Homo sapiens: one gene and its partners. The protein of the gene in region 1 interacts with the protein of each later gene in a pairwise test. Each region holds a gene or a part of one and is shown on either strand. Other genes may lie near its edges.

Evidence for each region.
Region 2: the proteins of CDK6 (region 1) and CCNI interact in binary tests that used the Homo sapiens proteins (3 or more experiments, as listed by UniProt).
Region 3: the proteins of CDK6 (region 1) and TRIM15 interact in binary tests that used the Homo sapiens proteins (3 or more experiments, as listed by UniProt).

The regions. Positions count from the first base shown.
Region 1 is NC_000007.14:92,616,555-92,623,587, forward strand, and holds part of CDK6 (cyclin-dependent kinase 6), read right to left. Parts: intron 6,533-7,033; coding exon 6,482-6,532; intron 1,654-6,481; coding exon 1,518-1,653; intron 1-1,517. UniProt on the Homo sapiens protein: Serine/threonine-protein kinase involved in the control of the cell cycle and differentiation; promotes G1/S transition. Phosphorylates pRB/RB1 and NPM1.
Region 2 is NC_000004.12:77,046,649-77,052,016, forward strand, and holds the end of CCNI (cyclin-I), read right to left. Parts: intron 2,015-5,368; coding exon 1,571-2,014; 3' UTR 507-1,570; downstream 1-506.
Region 3 is NC_000006.12:30,166,519-30,173,199, reverse strand, and holds the end of TRIM15 (E3 ubiquitin-protein ligase TRIM15), read right to left. Parts: intron 6,025-6,681; coding exon 5,929-6,024; intron 4,901-5,928; coding exon 4,670-4,900; intron 3,960-4,669; coding exon 3,937-3,959; intron 2,700-3,936; coding exon 2,584-2,699; intron 2,225-2,583; coding exon 2,192-2,224; intron 1,369-2,191; coding exon 851-1,368; 3' UTR 507-850; downstream 1-506.

The sequences.
Region 1 (7,033 bases):
TCTAGAAAAGCTTTGCAAGGGCTGAATTCCCAAAGGACCGGAAAGCAGGGGCAAAATTCCTGAGCCTGAGTTCTCTTTTCCCAGAGCCCAAGAAGGAGAAAATTAGGTAGTGGCATTTAATCTCCAGGACATAGGAAAGAAGAGAAAAGAGCTGTGGGAATACATTCACAATACAGAGACATGTCTCTAGAGGATTATGTGAGAGGAAGCCCTTTCCTCACAGCTACACTGATGGCTTAAAGCTGGGAAGAGGGTGGAGAGAAGGAGAACACCTTAGCCAAATGTGGGGGTGTGGGAGAATCTCACGTTGGAAGTCTTAATACATTTTGTCCTATAGAAATATGGTTAAAAAAAAGGTGTTTAAGTTCTATTATTGCTCTACTTCAGGAACAAGGTTGCCAGGTTGAGGGTTAATTAAAAAACTTTGTGTTAATAATATTGTTTCTGCAAGAAAATTTAGTTTAATTGCCAAATAGTTTACTTATAAAATGAGCTTTTGGAATCACAACTTAGTCAAGAGTTGGATACTATGGTAGATTGGATAACTTTTAGTACATATTCCCTCTTTTCTCTCCCCTCTCACCATAGGGGGAGCATTCTTTCCTCCATTCAAGTTGGCCTTAGGCATGGAACTTGCTTTGGCCAATGGAACATGGGCAGAGTGGCGGGTACTTCTTCCAAGTATGGACCTTCAGGGGCATTGCATATTTCTGCTTGCCCTTCTGGAGCATCGATACCTTCTATCATGAGAAAAACATGCCCCAGGGAGCTGCTGCCTCTCTGGCATGGGCCCCAGCATGAGACACATGGAGAAGACCTGTGCTTCACCCACGGGCAGAAGCAGATATCAAAGGCTGTTAATTCAGGAGGTAAAGCAGACACTCATTACTCACTGGGTTTCAGACATCAAGAACAGCCCAACAGGTACACTTTTCTACCTATTGTTCTGGCCTCCAAGTATAGGAAATTATGTATATGGTTGAGCATTAAGAGTCTCAGAGCACAGAAGTCCTTATTTTCAGTGAGGTATTTTATATGTCCCTGGCACACTAAATACTTATTAAATAAATCAGCAACTAGAAGAAGTATTGCTATATAGTTCTTTTGGAAAAACATCTCCCCAAAGTTGTGAATGTTTAAGAAAAGGCACGTTAAAATGACAAACAAATTACTTAAAGTAGCATGAAACTGTAAGAAAGGAAACATAATATTTACTTCTAAAGAAACATATGTCAAAGTGAATCGAGAGGCTTCTAAACCTGCATTGAAATAAACATTCAAAGATGGCAGATTTAAAAAAATGTGGATCAGAAAGACATTCCAGAATCAAAAGCCACCAGCTGCTACAAGTGTGAAAATGAAACCTCTGGAGGGACTGTTGCCTCCTGCTCCATGTGGCTGTGGCATGTGATGCCTATAGCAGCTACTGAACTGATATTTGTGCCCACCACCCAGTCTGGGTAGAGCAGGTGTCTCACTGGCACAGTGCAGACGAGCTTGACATCAGAAAAACTTACCAGAAGTAGGTCTTTGCCTAGTTCATCGATATCTGTTACAAACTTCTCAATTGGTTGGGCAGATTTTGAATGAAAAGCCTGCCTGGGAAGGGCAACATCTCTAGGCCAGTCTTCTTCTCCTGGGAGTCCAATCACGCTACAAAAGAACCACACATGGACATAAGCATTAGCTACTATGCAGAAGCTGTTTTCTCATCAATTTCCAGAGAAAGGCAAAATCTAAGGGGGAGACATGGGGGGCAGAGTCCCAGGAGACCTTCACTTTATCACTGGCAGGGTCTCTGTTTATCTCTGTCCTACTGCAATATGGTGGCCATGGGGGAGAGGGTAATCTCACAGAAGAATTGTAAAATTCAGTGGGAGGAGATAAGAGATTGCTCTGGTAGCAGACACTAAATGTAAGGGATGATGTAGAAATAGAAAATATATTACCAGGCAGTAAGCTCTGACTTAGTGACAAAGCAGGACTTATTGTATTCAGAGGAGACCCATACTGGTACATATCTTCCTTTATGTCCAAGAATGCTTTTTGTGTTTTGATCGAACACCCCAGTATTGACATGATTTTATGATGCTCATCCAACATGGTTTATTAACATATCAATTTGGTTGCATTTTTGGTTAAAGAGCAATTCCCTACATATTAAATATATACATTAGAATCAGAAGGAAAAATGAGGCTAAAACGTGCTAGTCCTGCATTATACAAACATGATTTTATAAAAGGAAGTCTGTGGTATTCCAAAGTGAGCAAACAGTAAATTAAAAGACTATTATTTATATTTCCCCTGAAAACCATTCTGGGATCAGAAATGTGGAAAGAACAGCAAGTGATAAGCACAGGCTTCGGAAATAGGCAGATTTGGGTTCAAATCCTGCACCTGCCACTTACTGGCAGGTAAGGACAAATTACTTAACATCTATGACCCTTAGTGTCTTTATGTATACAATGATAATAACTTACAGTTGTAATGAGGATCAGTTATACTTTATTTGAATTTATAGTAATATATAAATTTATAATTTAAAGTACAAAGCACAGCACCTGATATACATCACACACAGTCAATTATCAATCAATACACTGCCTACTATTATTATAATTAGAAAATGTTATTAATACAAGATGCATAGGAAATACATCACTACCACACTTAAAATATGAACTGCTTGTATCTATGTATAACTTAAGATTCTTTAAAAAATTAATGGGTCAATGGACTTACATAACTTATACATTGTATAGATATTATTTATAGTTTACATATAGGTCGTAAGTAGGTTTGAACAGAGAAAATCAGAGGATGCAGGGACTTCTTTCTCACACAGACTGTATAACTCTGAACCAAAAATAAAATCATAGTTTAGTGGACGGGGTACATAGCTATTCAAATACTGGAACAAATAATTTTAACTACAGTTAGAAATTGTGCTGGCCCACATTAGGGTCTTCTGCTTGGCCTCTACTTGTTGGGACTAAGGCCCAGGAAGAGGTGTTCTTATGAATGTACTTCCAGATTTCAGGAAGATGTGGTACAGGTCTCAAGATCTGTAGCACTTCATTTCCCCTTCCCTCACCTACACGGAGCCCAGGCCATAGACTTCAGCTGGGAAGATAACCCTGTCATCATGGCTTCTCTGCCTGGGTGTCTGGGGAAGACACTGTAATTCGGCCTCTATCAGGCATACTGAGAGAGCTACATTATTGAGGCAAAGACAGATTCATGGACATATTTACTAGAAGCAATAAATAGAAATGACAATGAGCAATATATAGATTTGTTCAATAGTACAGCCTACAATAGAAGTAAAAAGAAAAAAACCAAAAATACCACTATTAATTATGAAAAGAAATGCACGTGTAAGTGTCTGGATACAATGGGACAGGGCAGAGGAGGGAATGAAAAATGCTTGTTAGAGAGCTTTAAAAATTTCCTTTCATTCCTTTTTAGTTGTCAGGTCTATGTGTATCAATATTTTTGTGTATATTCACCAGTCAGCTAGAAATTGATTATATTAATAACTCCTAGAAATATTTAAAATCTTTTTTATTTGTGGCTTTGAATGTATCTACATCTAATTACATCTTGCAAGTATATGATCAACTGAATGCCAAAAGCCTTCAGAGGAACAGCACATCTCTGTTTGTATGTGTGTACATATACAAATAACTTTATATAATTTTATATAAAATTTTAAACAAACACATAACTATATATATAAAACTTTAAGTCTATCACCTCCTCTGATTCCTGTAATAATTTCCTAAGACATGTAAGTCAGGTGTTATTAGTCTCATTTTATAGATGGGGAAATTGAGAATGAGGAATAAAATGAACTGCCAAAGTCACAGATAGCAAGCTCAGTCACAGAGTCCAGAGTGAGTTCCGTTCTCTCTATTCCAATATTTTATTTCCATTTAGCTATGACATCATTCTTAAAAATGCTCTAAGATGTCACAGGCTAAAACTATTGTTTCACTTTTAATACTTGCTATTACTTGAAGGCTTAAATCTTCCTAAACACAGAAATGTTTTTCCCTTTAAGAGTATGTGAACATGGACCAGGTGGGGTGGCTGTAATCCCAGCAGTTTGGAAGGCCGAGGCAAGTGGACCACTTGACCCCAGGAGTTCAAGACCAGCCTGGGCAACATGGTGAAACTCCATCTCTATAAAAAATATAAAAATTAGCTGGTTGTGGTGCCCTGTGCCTGTAGTCCCAGCTACTTGGGAGGCTTAGATAGGAGGATTACTTGAGCTCGGAAGGCCAAGGCTTCAGTGAGCCAAGATCGCACCACTGTACTCCAGCCTGGACAACAGGGCAAGACCTTGTCTCCAAAGAAAAAAATAAAAAAGAGTATGTGAATATGGCTTTCCTTAAAAAAAATTTGGTTTCATGTCCAGAATGAACTTTTATGGCCCAAATATGTGTTGTGAAATTCTGATAGGTCCATTAAAAATGCTTGCACTTAATTCCACTATTTGGACTGCTGAATATAAGCCTTAAAAGTTGACATTTATATTGGCAAGCCCAACAGGGCACAAAATCTATAAATGGCAGTGATGGAGGAGACAGAAATATTTTTTCAAGTACTTCAGCAGTGACGCTAGGGTGCAGCATTGTCCCTTTTCTCTGGCAAGGTAATGCATTCAGAGGAAACAGAACATAATTTTGATGACACAATGCCAGAAACCACAAAGTAAAATCTAAAGGCACAAACCATAGAACTCTACAGCTTCTTTGCTGTTGGCAACCTACGATTGTCAGGACTTTGCCAAAAGCAGAACTGGCTTTTCTTTGGAAGCAGGTCAAACATGCCGGTCAAATGTTCCTTCTGGTCCATTTCACTGGCCTCATGTACTAAGGGGGCACTAACAATGTTAACAAGATTGCAGACATCAGTGCTGGAGGTAGACACAACTGTCAGGTAGTATAAATAAGGGAAAGAAGGTGATGGCTTTCAAGTCCTGGCAAGCTGACTTTAGTCAAGATTCTCTTTCCTTTTAACAGAAGGTCATCAGTATGTCTGCTTTCCCTAGTTTCCTCTTTATGATCACATGCACACAAAATATATTCAACAGTCATGGGGAAAAATAGATGGGAGTTCATCGAGTGATTAAATAACTTGCCATTCAGAAGCAGGGGTAACATGAAGGCTTTGTGTTGAATTTATCCACTGTACAGAGTGGTCAGTAGTAGGAGCAGTAGCATCACCTGCCCTGGACCCAGGAAGCCCCCAGGCATAAAAAACTAGCAAATGTTATTCAGGCCTTAAAGCTACTATGTTCTGACTCAGCAGTAGCACTGGCATTAACAGAAGTCTAGCTGCTTCTAGTCACTAAAAGAACAAAATCAGGTTCCAGTTTTATTAACTGTTTTAAGCAGTCACGCTTGAGTAGACAGTGCTGATATGAAAATCTGTTCTTTAGGGGTGGTTTTTTTTTTTTTTTCAGTCTTACAGACTTCGAATTTCATAAAAATCACTGGGATTCCTATAAAATGTCACAGACCAAAGATCAGGGCTATTTTTGGTCTAGAACTCCCACTTTTTTCCTACTCCACTCCAATTTGGATGGGCCTTTCAAACACAAAAAACCAAAAAAGGATGCCACACTGCATGCTTTGTCAGAAGAAGTGCCCCAGTTACATTCTAGAAACATGAATGCATACATGCATGAACATGCAGACATGAATGAAACTATGTAAATCATCAAGGAGCGATGTAACTGAAACCAAAGAATTTGAGCACAAGAAAGGATCTTATAGAGAATTTAAGTCAGAGTTTCATTTCTCAGATGAAGTTAAGGAAATAAAAGGTTAAATAATTAATGATGAACTCTAATAGTAACAGTAATAGATAACTTTTTAAAGTGCTTACTATGTGCCAGGCACTGTGTAAGCCCTTCACGAGGTGTTTTAAATGACTTTCTCAAAGTTGCAGAGTTATTTTGCCAAAGACTTAGGGTTCTCATTTTCTATTTTGGTGCTCCAAAGAAAAATGAGATGTGTAGCATACCATCCTTCGCCCAGGAAAACAAAACAAAACAACGCAGAACCAACCTGGGTGACCAAGGATACTCAGTGGGGACAGGAAGCTCACTGGACAAGGATGGGTACTTGGTCACCAGGCATCCCATCTCTGATGGTGGGTGCTTTTGAAATGACCACAAGCAGAAAATGTATTTGAACTAAAAGAACTGGAGCTCAGCCACACGAAGAAAGAGGAGCAGCAAAAAGATCCACACAAGCAACATACAAGCTTCCAGAGCAGAGCAGTTAGGGCTCTGCATAAAACGGCACTTCTACCATGTCTCCACTCACCACACAAATAGTAACACTGTCTGCAGCAGCTGCTTGAAGTAAGAAAGACAAGAGATAAACACATGATATGCATGTCAGAGGAAAGTCACTGTAAATGTTTTAATGCTATGGACACTGGTGTAAAATTATAATTATTACTTACTCCAAGATTTTTCCTAGTTGATCAACATCTGAACTTCCACGAAAAAGAGGCCTAAAAGAATAAAGATACATTTTAAATAAGAAATGTTCTCAGATTACATTTCAATCATATTTGCCATTATCATTGTTTCACAGGAAGCAAAATATTCTTTATGGGTTGGGAAGAAGTAAAAAAAATTGAGACATTTTTCCTTTGGTAAGTGAAGGTTTTCCCTGCATTTCATGTATGGGTTAGGATCTCTCATGAATACCTGGTGGTAGATGAATTCCATGTTTTACAATCACGGGCATTCTGTTTGCAGTCATTCTTACAACAGTGCTACCGTCAAATTCAGTTCCAGGTTTCAAAGATCTGCTTAACTTCGTGATAAGGTGGAACATACCACCATCCTAGTCTCGAACCATAAATAGGTGAGATTCTTTGATATTTCTCAGAGCACTTTTTCCATACTACTCTGCTATCAGAGTACTTCCTCATGGGTCTCTCTCCTTTCATTTGTCCTCAATGCTGCAGTGAACCACCTCTGGGTCTATTTTTCTAATTATACCACTT
Region 2 (5,368 bases), on another chromosome or scaffold:
GATGAGAAATTTTTAAAATGTCTATCTGTGAAGCCAATCCTTTGCTATCTTCCCTCCCACTCCCTTTACTGACATGTGAGTAAATGCTTCCCATTTAATTGGATTTTAAGGTCATAAAACAGGTAAGTCAACCCTACCACAAGAATTTTTTACAAATCAGATGATGACCTGAAAATACTCTTGTTCTGCTAAATCTGAACATTACAAAATGGCTAAAAATGACATTTTAAAGATAGGGGTCTGAGCCTACTCTCACAAGCAGTCACATTAAGATGTAAATTTACTATTTGGAGGATTCACAGTGCACCAGTGAAAAAATATCACGAAAGAAAAATTCTTATGTCTAAAACCTATATCCCTCGATCACATTCAGATCCTCTTCATGTTTTATTTTCAGTAAGTGTATTCTTGGTCTTTCTATTGTTTTCTCTAGTTGAAATAGCAGTGCCTAGCCAATCAGGAACCTGTACCTCTTCACAACCAGAAAAAAGTCACAAAAACAAAAGTTAAGGACAACTTTTTATTGCTACCAGAGGCTTTTATCATCAGTACACAGTTCTGACTGCAATACCTTTTTCAGACTGCAAAGGGAGCTCAGGATCCAGAAGTCATTAAAAGAAACATAAGGCTGGGGAGGCAGGGGGAGTAAGTTCTATTAGAAAATCCTAATAGCTTAACAAAACTAGGGTACTAAATTCAGTTATAACATGTTACAGACTTAAATCATAGAGCTGCCCCAACATCTAGACAGTCTCTCCTACTGATTATAAATGAGTGAAAACTATCAGTTAGAAAAATCTAATTTAAGTTGTTAATACATGTTTCTTTGGTGAGCACCTGGATATATTTATCACAAATTCTTTTATACAAATGTCGAAAATGCTTTCAACAAACCTAAGTGTCCTAATTACATGCCACTTTTAAGCATCACTTTAAGGTAAACAAAAATGAAAACCATAATTTTAAATTAAAATTTGAAATGAGACACAAAATCAACCTGGTAATATGAGAACTTTTTCTTTTGCCATCTCTGATTAATATGGGACAATTCCAAAGTACCCTTTTCAGACTAATTGGAACTTGAGTCATGGCTGTCACACTGAAATAATTTGTTCATTCAACTGCAGTGAAAATCAATATAGATCAACATGCATAAAGTTCAGTAACTATTAAATGGAGAAGCAAGCAAAAGCAACAGGAAAATTAAATCAGGATGCTGAGGGGGAACAGGATTGCTGGCCATGAATTTTAATTGAATTTTTGACGGGGCAAGCTACGTTACATTATGGCAGAAAAAAAGTGCAACTGACATACTACAAAGAGATTTTTTAAGTTTAAAAAAAGTTTGGATCTTTTGGATTTCTTTTTTTTTTTTTTGGTCTTTATGTGCTTAAATAACGCTGAATTATAATTAGCCACACAAATAATGAGAGTTTTATTTTTTTTTTCTGGCTCACTCCAAATCAGCCTGTTAAGGTATATTTCCTTCTACAGCCTTTCCTGATTTTGCATGTTCTCATTCCCAAAGTAGTCTACCTTAGTTTACACTCAAAGGTAGCACTTGTTGAAACTACATGACAGAAACAGGCTGCAAAGGTGGACAAGGGGAAGCATGTCCCTCTTGTCTTGATAAATCAGTGCCACACACAGAACCCACATTTTCTGAGACATTATCTTCATTATAGAGCCGTTTGATTCCATCATAGAAGTCATCCACTTCCATTTCCTCTACTTTGCGTTTAGTAGAGGTCTGCTTGCACCCACTGGCAGCTGGGAGATGATGGTAAAAGGCTGCTGTACCTCTGACTGGCACTTCTGGCTTGCTGTTGTCCTTGGAGAAGTCTGGGCCTGGGACAGAGGAGGGATGTAATCTGAACACTCCTTTGTCACAGGTCACCAGGGTGTGCTTGAGGGGACGGTAGACATAAACGGAATTCAGAGGCAGGGAAGACTGCAGAGTAGAAAGGTGATGTGCCACAAGCTCCCGACAATGGATCAACTGGGAGCTATCCATCTGGGCCAGGAAAAAAAAAAAGCCACACACAGTTGATCATTAATTAACATAGGCTGCTCTGTTATCTCTGGTGGCCATTTTTCCTCCCTGTGCTTTCCGTCCCCGCTGAGTCTTTTCTCTCCCCACATCTACCTCCAACTCATTTATTTATCCAGCTACCCATCCATCAACATCATCTTAGAAATTAGGTCCAAATCTGTATTTCTAATATAATTATCTTTGGAACTTGAGTTTTGTATTTGCAATGTATGCTGAACATTTACATGAGAACAGAAACTACTTTTTTGTATCCAACGTCTGTTTTTTTTTTTTTTTTTTTTTTTTTTCAGTCTATTCCCCCTGTCTGGAAGGCCCTTCATCCTACTCTCTTGGCCTCTTCTAATTTTTTTCAGTGGAGTCCAAAGTACTCATAAACACATTCATTAAAAATGTAAGAAGCCAAAGGGCAAAAAAAAAATTTTTTTTAATCAGGGATGAGGAGGGAAGCTAAGAATTTTAAAATAGTAAATGAAAAATTTAGAAATATGTATTTTGTAGAAAATAGTAGACTTAGCACTAAGATGAAATGTTTTTGGTAAAGTTTTTAATTTGGGAGTTTTGCTGATTCCTTCTTACCCTTCAGGACAATTCACAGATATCAATCCTTTCTGGAGTTACCCCTGACTCCCTCAACACCCCAAAACTCTAAATGCCACGGTCATCTGTTTCTATATCAACCTTTTAACATATTTATGGCCAGGCGTGGTGGCTCATGCCTGTAATCCTAGCACTTTGGGAGGCCAAGGCAGGTGGATCGCTTGAAGCCAGAAGTTCAGACCAGCCTGGCCAACATGGCGAAACCCCTTCTCTACTAAAAATACAAAACATTAGCAGGACATGGTGGCAGATGCCTGTAATCCCAGCTACTCAGGAGGCTGAGGCATGAGAATAGCTTGAGCCCAGGAGGTGGAGGTTGCAGTGAGGTGAGATCAAACCACTGCATTCCAGCCAGGCCAACAGACAGAGCAAGACTCTGTCTTAAAAAAAAAAAAAAAAGACACTAAAACCTTTCAACGTATTTACCACATTTCAGTATAATAATCTATTTAACCATTTAGCCTTTCCATTATAGACTACAAGACCAAAGGTGTGGCATTGTATTATATTCATCTTTTTATCCCTAAGTTTCTGGCACAATGACTGTACATGGAAGGCCTTTAAATTATTACCTGTAGTAAAGTGTCTCTCTTCCTCACTTTCAATTACAGCATTGTCAAAATAACCTTAGTTAGCATCATATATTCCTTCCCTGCTCTCTCCAGCGGCACCCCAATGCCTACCAGAAATAAGCTAAACTGCTTAGTTTAGTATTAATAAGAATCTCCATAATCTGATCTCAACCTTCTTTTCTAGCCTTATTTCCTAGCATACCCTCAACTTGTGGTCTACACTCTTGCTCAACAGTCCTGCTCTATATGATGCACTAATCTTCCCCTTTCTTATTTTACCCTTAATCATCTTATTTCTACCTGTTGAAATTGTATTGCGCATTCCTTCCAGGACTGGCTAAACACCATCACCTTCAGGAAGCCTATCTTGACCATTTAACTATCAGGGATCACTTTTTTCCAGTTTTGAGTATTCTGGACATTTCTGTACCAAGTCTTACTTATCCTCATATAACCTGCAGCACTCACCATGACTGTTTGCAATACCACAGAGAAAATAGGGGAAAATAACGCACTCTACAAGAACACATTTGGTCACAAAATTATTTTTATCTCTAAATACATTCACTATTTGTTACTGAAAAATACCAGAGGAAAGAATGGTAAAAGGCTGATGTTAGTCATTGTATAATACAAATGCAAAGTAACTGAAACTGTCAGAAATATACAAGAAAATGGCAGATTTTAGCATCTACCATAATGTTCACTGATTTTTTTCCCCTAGTTTGAAAGGCATTAGATAACACACTGTGGGTAAGACACTATTAACTAGTATTAGAATTTGTTCTCCCTCCCTTAAAAGAAAAAAAGTTAACATAACACTTAAGATAGTCCCTGAACTATCAAGCTTACATTTAGGCTAGGTCTTATTATATATCCCAGGGATGTAGAACAAGCTGAAACATGCTAAAAACATTGGAACAAAGCACAGAGAAAGGATGGAGCTTCTGCCAATATTTTAGGAAGCCTAAAAAAAAAAAAATGAAAGAAACTGGGAGTAAAAAAGGGGCTATAGTGTAGAAATTATTTCTAAAAAATAAGTACAGTCATCCCACAGTATCCATGGGGGATTAGTTCTAGGATCCCCCAAAAGATAACAAAACCCAACATGCTCAAGTCTCTTATATAAAATAATGTAGTATTTGCATATAACCCACTCGCATTGTCCTGTATACTTTAAATCATCCCTAGATTACTTATAATACCTAACAGAATGCCTACACATCACTTCATCTGTGTAGATTCAATGTAGTACTCAGCATGCCACAAATTCCAGGTTTTTTTGGAACTCTGTGAAATTTCTTCCTGAATATTTTCAATTCACGGTTGGTTGAATCCAGATGCCAAACCCATGGATATGGAGAGCCAACTGTACCTCGTTTAATGAAATGTTCTTTAGCAAATGAATGATATTTATTGGCCTAAAAAGGTAAAGGTACCACAAATATTCTAATGCCTTGGTCACTGGGCATAATAAATGCCATGGCAGAATCAATACTATGGCAGAATCCTAAAAAGACATGTATTTAAGTAAGAGGAAGACTATGTCACTATAATCTTTCTGTGTGAAAAAACGAAGTAAATAGAGTTATATTTTAGCGGTGGGAGACTGACAAGAAATGATAGAGCTAAAAGACCTTAGAAATTATTCAAAACAAAACCATCCATATGAACTCCACTTCCACCCAAGTCCCAAGTAAGTCTTTTCTCCAAAATAACATCAAAATAAATTCCTTCTAATCTAGTACAATCTGAATTTGTTCTATAAGACACCAAAATAATTTGTTCCTTCTTGAGATCCAGTGGAAGAAACAAAACAAGCACATATACTGGAACTACCAAAACTCTCGACACCAGACAAGTACTCTAATGGAGTTGATAAAAAGGACTTAAATGAACTCTAATTATAAGGTGTCAAGAGAATATGTATTATTTTTTATAACAATAAATGACATAAATGGTAGGTCCAGATGGATCCAGGTTTGATGAACAGCATGAAGCACTGAGGAACCTGCTGGAATAGTCTGACCACAGCCACCTTCAAAAAGAACCAGGAGACTGGTGGGGAGGGGTCTGTTTTTTTGTTTTTTTTTTTTTAAATTTGCTTCTTTTTACTTTTAGATGGTACATGTGCAGGTTTATTAAC
Region 3 (6,681 bases), on another chromosome or scaffold:
TAATAACTGCAGTAATAACAAATATTTGAGAGGTTAGTTAGACCTGAGCAAAAGCCTCGTTTTCTTAAACAATGGGGCCTGGTGATTGTCCCACTGTCTGTCATCAGGGATATCCTGACTAAAAGAAGGGACAGGATTGTGTCTTGGTCACAGAGGGATCATCACCCTTCCTCTCTGCATCTACTCCCTCGAGCCATCTCGGCCCTAAATTGCCAACACAGGCAGATCCCATTGGATTTAAGCCTTTCTCCAGTCCCATCAGCGCTAATTGGACACATGGAATCCAGAGGTCTGTGAGTCACACTTTCTTAGGACATTCTCTACAAGTCCAGAGAAATGACCAGAAGGGAAGGGAAAGGAAGGGGCCCTGGGGTCCACCCAGGGCTGATAAAAAGGCCCTAAGCCCTACAAAGGTGGAGGCATCTTCAGGTGTGTGTCAAAGTACGAAGTTAACTGTACAAATTAGTGCAAGTCCAGCAAAACCCTGATTTTTCCCAAGATAATTATTTTGAAACAGTTTAAACATTTTATTTTAGATGTCTTTTTCTTTTTTTTCCCCGAAAGCCCGCTGGCTCCTAGGTTGGCTGTTGCCCTAGGCACAGCCGAAGCCGTCTGTGGTTCTGCACTCTGAGGTACAGAGAAGGCCAGAGCGTCACAGGGAGGCTCAGGACGTCAGGGAGCTGAGGGCCTAAGATAAATAAAGTAAAAACAACCGCTGTTCGAGACTCAAGTCCCCTGTTCTCTCGCCTCACGCGGGCACAGGGAGCCCCCGGGCCGCACACTGGCCAGGGGCGGAGCTGGATCCCGGAGAGCCGCCGTCTCCGCTTCGCCGCCCTTCGCGCGCCCCACTTCAGCCTTTCAGCGTAAGGCAGGAACCTTTTTTCCAGACGGCAAAGAAAGGGAAGACTTTGCCGGAGAAAGAGGCAGTGAAGGTGAAGATGGGCTCCTGGGTCTGGGCGTTGTGGAGGGTCACCTGCCCCGCCTCGTAGTCCAGGGCGACTCTCACGCCGCGCGGGATCTCGCTCAGCGGCAGGTCGGTGCCCGGGGAGGTGCTGGCCCAGCACTGCTGGTGCGAGATGATCACGGCCCAGACGCCGTCCTCGGCGCTGAGTCCCATCTCTCCCTTCCTCCTCACCCCCTCCCCGGCCACCCCCACCGTGCAGCCGCCGCCGTCGCCCAGCTGCAGGTCAACCTGCCAGCGGTGGCGCCCGGAGGAGAAGCCCGGGAAGCCCAGAACCGCCGGGAGGCCGTCGAAGCGCAGGGGGCTGTCTGGCAGGCTCTTCTTCTGCCGGGTGTACCTCACTGACTTCCTGTCTTCCGAGAGAACCAGGCTCCGGCTGGCGGTCTGAGGGTCCAGAGTGATGACCCCTAGAGGGAGGAGCGCGCAGACATCAACAGCGGGCGGCAACCACAGATGTTCCTAGAGCAGGCAACGCACGTGGGAGGCAGAAGGAGTACTGGACTTGGGCAGCCTGCCATTGGGCCACTTCTCTGAACCGCCCTTCTACCTAATCAGCAAGTGGTGCTGTTAAGGATTTGCTTCTCAAAGTGCAGCGGGAGGGACCAGCAGCATCCCCACCACCTGGGTGTTTGTTAGAAATGCAGAATATTGGGCCCCATCCCACCCTACTAAATCAGAATCTGCATTTTAACAGGATCCCTAGGAGACGTTTCTGCATATTAAGTTTGAAAAGCACTTACCTATACCAGAGTGAGTGAGGTGATGCTTATGGAAACAACTTCTAAATTAAGCACCAATTTAAAAATAAATGTGATTTTTAAAAAATTGCACATTTTTTGTTCAAATCAGTAGAGAGCCCAGCACAATGCTCTCAAAAAACTAGGGCTTGATAAGTATTTTTCAACGAGTAATATCTACACAAGTAGATGACATTAATTGAGCACTTACTATGAGTCAGGTAATATACTAAGCTCTTTGCATGTATTAATTTATTTTGTCCTCACAGCTACTTATGGGACAGGTACAGTACTTTTATTTTCATTTTACTGATGAAGAAAATATTGTGGGACAGAGGCTTAATAACTTGCCCAGTGTCTCAGAGCTAGCAAGAACTGGAATCGAGAACTCAAGCAATCAAGCTCCAGAATTCATGCATTTTATTGCTCTGTTTGCTGCCATGGATTGAATGGATGAATGGAAGAATGACTCCCCAAATCCCAAGCTGTTTACCTGAATCTATTTCCAGATGATGCGCCAAGTTTTCTGAGGGAAGCAGAAATAGAAAGAGAGATCTGTGACTTATTACTTCTTATAGGCACCCCCAGGGGCAAGGTGACTTGAGTACAATGTGAAGATGAGGACAGAAGACTCGGCTTCTGCTGTGGTCTAGTGGAGGAGAAGGGTCCTCACCCTCCTGGACTCTCAGTCCTGCACCTGTCCTTAGGGAGTGGAGGAGATGCTCTGGGAATAGTGCCCCTGAATAAATTGAGATCACTAAGGGAAGGCTCTGGGGAGGGAAGATGTCTCGAGCCAGGTTTCAAGGGCAGAGAAGGATGGAGATGGGTGGAAGACAGGAGGGCAGCTAATGGGACTGGGGAAAACTGTGGCGCCTTCCCCTTTACCTGAGAACATCCTCATCATCTCTGGGAGGGTGAGTATTTTCCTGTGGAAATCACGGATCTTCTTGACAAGGTCAGGAGAAATGGCCTCAGGACTCACAAAAGTCTTCATCTCACACCTGCAGACAGGTTTGGTAACCAGTTAGGTCCAAATTCCAAAAACAAATGTTCGGGTGAGACCACGTGAGGCTAAAATCAGACTAAAGAATGATCTTGGCGTCTGTGGTGAATAATGAAATTGAGTATCATTTCTTTACTTTTGCTGGAAATGTGTAGTTACTAAAATAGTAGGCATTTCAGTTAAACCTAAGAGGAACTAAGGATAATCACTTCTCAAGAATTGGAGGTAAGCCCCTTTAGGAGAATGTTTGGTTCTGTAGGGGCTGAGGGACAGAGATCATTACCCCTTTTGGTCTCTAGAGGGCAACAGGGTACCATTTGAAAACAGCCTTAAACTACCCTTGTGTATGCTGCTATTTGTAAAGGAAAAGAGGCTAGAAGGGAAGAAAAAAAAAGGATCAACGAAAATATATATTGCAATGAAAAAAACTCCTGATTCTGGTCCCAGCTCAGTCCTCATTAGACACTTGCTGCATTACCTTGAAGACTCTTCACCCCCTGGGTCTCAGTTTCTTCCTCAGACTGGAAGACCTCCAAGCCCTTCTAGATCTAAACCTCTAATGCTCTTTGAAAAGCATGTTTGGAGACACTTCCTGATTCATGGACCCTGGGTTTATCCTCCCTGCACGGGAATAGGCACAAAGCACGTGACAATTGTTCCCTAGTCACTACACCTCTCTTCATCTCAGTGCAGACTGCTAATGCTTATAGCAGACAGGGAAGGAAAGGGCCATGCATTTACAATGCCACTGGCTCCTGGTGGCTGTCCTTTTACAGTAGCATTAGAAAATTCTGAAGGAAACCAGAGATGTGTGTAAAAAATGAATGAATGAAAGAACAGGCTGGTATTCCTGGTTTCCATGCTTATCATAGTCTACAGAAAGTATTCCCCCTTTAAATTACATTTTAAATGGTGTTAGATACTGACTCAAGTACTAATAATTTCATAGATTAAATAAATGTTCCTGGATCAACCTAAAAACATGATTATTATTTATAACTTCACTTCTAGGGGAAAAAATGTGTCCCCAATACCAACCAATCAATTTAAAAATGAACCTTTAGAACGCAAATCTTTAGTGAGTTTGGACTGTTTGTGCACAGTTGAATGAGACAGTGTGTCTGCCAGAGTGCCTTTGCTTTCCTGGCAAAGTGGGTGGCAGTAAGTGCCCCTGCCCCTTCCCATTCAGTCTTGATGTTGAGTAAAAGGAGGCAGGACCGGGGAGTGGGCCCTACCTGCTCTGGTTGACTCTGACATCCTGCAAAAGAAAGACAAGAACATACATTTAGTTTCCATAAGTCCTTCCTGTCAGGGATTCTGTACATCACTTTTCCCTTAAAATATGAACTCAAAACTCTCCTTCTGCAGAGAGTTGTCCTGTTTAATTACCTACTCATTAGATTGTTCTTTTACATCATGTTTTCTTACTAATTTGGGTTTCTGTAGTCAGTTCATTTGTGCTGGTTTCCCTGTTTCAGCCTTATCGTGGGGGTGGGTTGTGTCTGCAATGATTAGGAGGTGGTAGAGAGCAGGGGCCTGCCTTCAGTTATCAGCTGGACCTGATGTGAGCCAGGATCACATATTCATAACCATAGCAGACACCAGTTATTGAGTTCTTTCTGTATATCAGGAATCATGCCAAGCATTTTTTATGGATTGTTTCTTATAATTTTGCAATAACTTTATGAGGGAGGTGCTATTGCTGTCCCCATGTTTAGAGAGGCTAAGAGACTCACTCAAGTCACACAATTGGAAGAGCCAACATTCAAATCCAAGACTGTCTGACCCTAAACCCCTTAACATGACCACAGTGTATGACTTGGGCAAGTCTCCAGCCCCTCTGGATCTGCACCCCGTTAACCTCTCTCCACTTCCCTTTCCTGCCTCTCTCCAGCCCAAAGCATGGTGCCCACCCCCTTCCCCGTGGAGTCCCTCTCTTATCCTACAAAGTGGTGAAGTGTCTCTCACTTGTAGAAGCTCACTTGCTGGCTGCTGACACTTCTCCTCCAGCTCCTTGACCTGGGCTCCAAGCCGGGTGACTTCCTCAGAGACCTTTGTGATATATTCATCCCTCTCCTTCCAAATCTGCTGCTCCAGCTCCCTCAGCCTGGCCAGCAGGAGACATCGCTGCTGCTCCAGCTCCTGCTGCAGCCTCTCAAAAGCTGTTTCCACCTGATGCTTCTTGCTTTCGATCTGAGTCTTCAAGGGATAAAAGGCAGACATGGTTAGGAAGGGGCTCAGAGATAGCTTCCAGGATGATCATCTATATACTTATTATTGATTAACAGGGATAGGGAGCAACTGGTCCAAGACTCATTCCATTTACTAATATGCCTAGAAGTAGTTAGGTCTCAGGATGAACTTACCAATGATGAGGGCTGTGCTACTGTCTTAGCTAGATACTCTAATAATAATGCTACATTATGCTCTCAGAATGATGTTGAACTTTTCAAAAATATTTCCACAACTACAATACCATCATAACCCTACTATGCCTTCTTAGAGTTAGGTGGGGAAGACTGTAATAATTTCTTAGAGGCAAAAGGAAGTTGTGATTGGAGTCAACACAACTTAGTGGGAGAGTGTGTAATTTTGGTTTTAGCCGTGGAAATCACCAACTACAGGGCATACGTTGATGAGAGCTGAGGGATGGTGGATAGGTTGCTTTGTCCCCACACTCTCTCCTTGGTCAAGGTACCAGAAATCCTCACACTGTGATTCCTCCATAACTTTATAGCATGAAAAGAGAGGCGTGAGGGATCCAGATGTAGCCACACCATCAGCCTACTCTCCTCAAGGTCAGCCTGTAGTCAGGACTAGAATCCCGACACTAACATATGTTTTTGACCCCAAGCTTCCCATCTGAAGGTGGTGTGTTCAGGCAAACAGACTAGGATGGAAAGAACAATGAATTAAGGGTCAAGAAATCCAGGTTCCTCATGAACTTCAGCTTTGCTATGTGGCCTTGGGAGCATTGCTTTTCTGGTCCTAAGTTTTCTGCTCTGTAAAATGTGATATACAAGATGGATCTTGGATTGCAAGACATCAGAACCACTTCTAGTGCTCATGGTCTGAGATCCCAAATGCCTTTGTGCAGCCACAGGAAGGTGAACGAGAACAGTTTGTCAGTTCTTTTCAGCCAGGAAACAGATACCAGCCAACGGGTTTCCCCAGAGTCTCTTAAGAAAACCTTCAAAGGAAAAGGTAGCCAGTGACGTGGCCTGTACCAGCAGCACTTGAAGCTTCTGGTCTTCTTGACACTTTACATCCTCAATCTCATCTCTCTCCGTGCTCAGAGCTTCCAGTCGACTCCTGAGACGATCCTGTGGGGAGAAGAATGGGTGGATAGAGGTGACTGAATTAATAATTCAACTCACAATTATTAACTATCACATCCTGGGCACACTGTTGAGTGCTGAGGGGTTCAAAGGTGGAAAAGGCCCAGTCCTTGCCCTAAAGAGACCACCATCTCAGGAAGAAGTCAATGTCAAGTGATTAAAATACAGATAGATAAATGCAATAGTCCAGGGGTACACACAGTGAGATGGGAACACAGAGGTCAGCTCTGCCTGTAGGCCTAAGGGAAGGTTTGGAAAGCAGAAAACATTTACAATGTGCCTTGAAAGATAAATTTCCAGTTGAATAGAGAGGGAGAGAAAAGGACTTAGTGCCCACAGATGTGAAGGACCTCTTCAAGGAGAACTACAAACCACTGCTCAAGGAAATCAGAGAGAACACAGACAAATGGAAAAACATTCCATGCTCATGGATAGGAAGAATCAATATTGTGAAAATGGCCATACTGCCCAAAGTAATTTATAGATTCAGTGTTATCCCTATCAAGCTACCATTGACTTTCTTCACAGAATTAGAAAAAACTACTTTATATTTCATATGGAACCAATAAAGAGCCCACATAGCCAATACAATCTTAAGCAAAAAGAATGAAGCTGGAGGCATCATGCTACCTGACTTCAAAC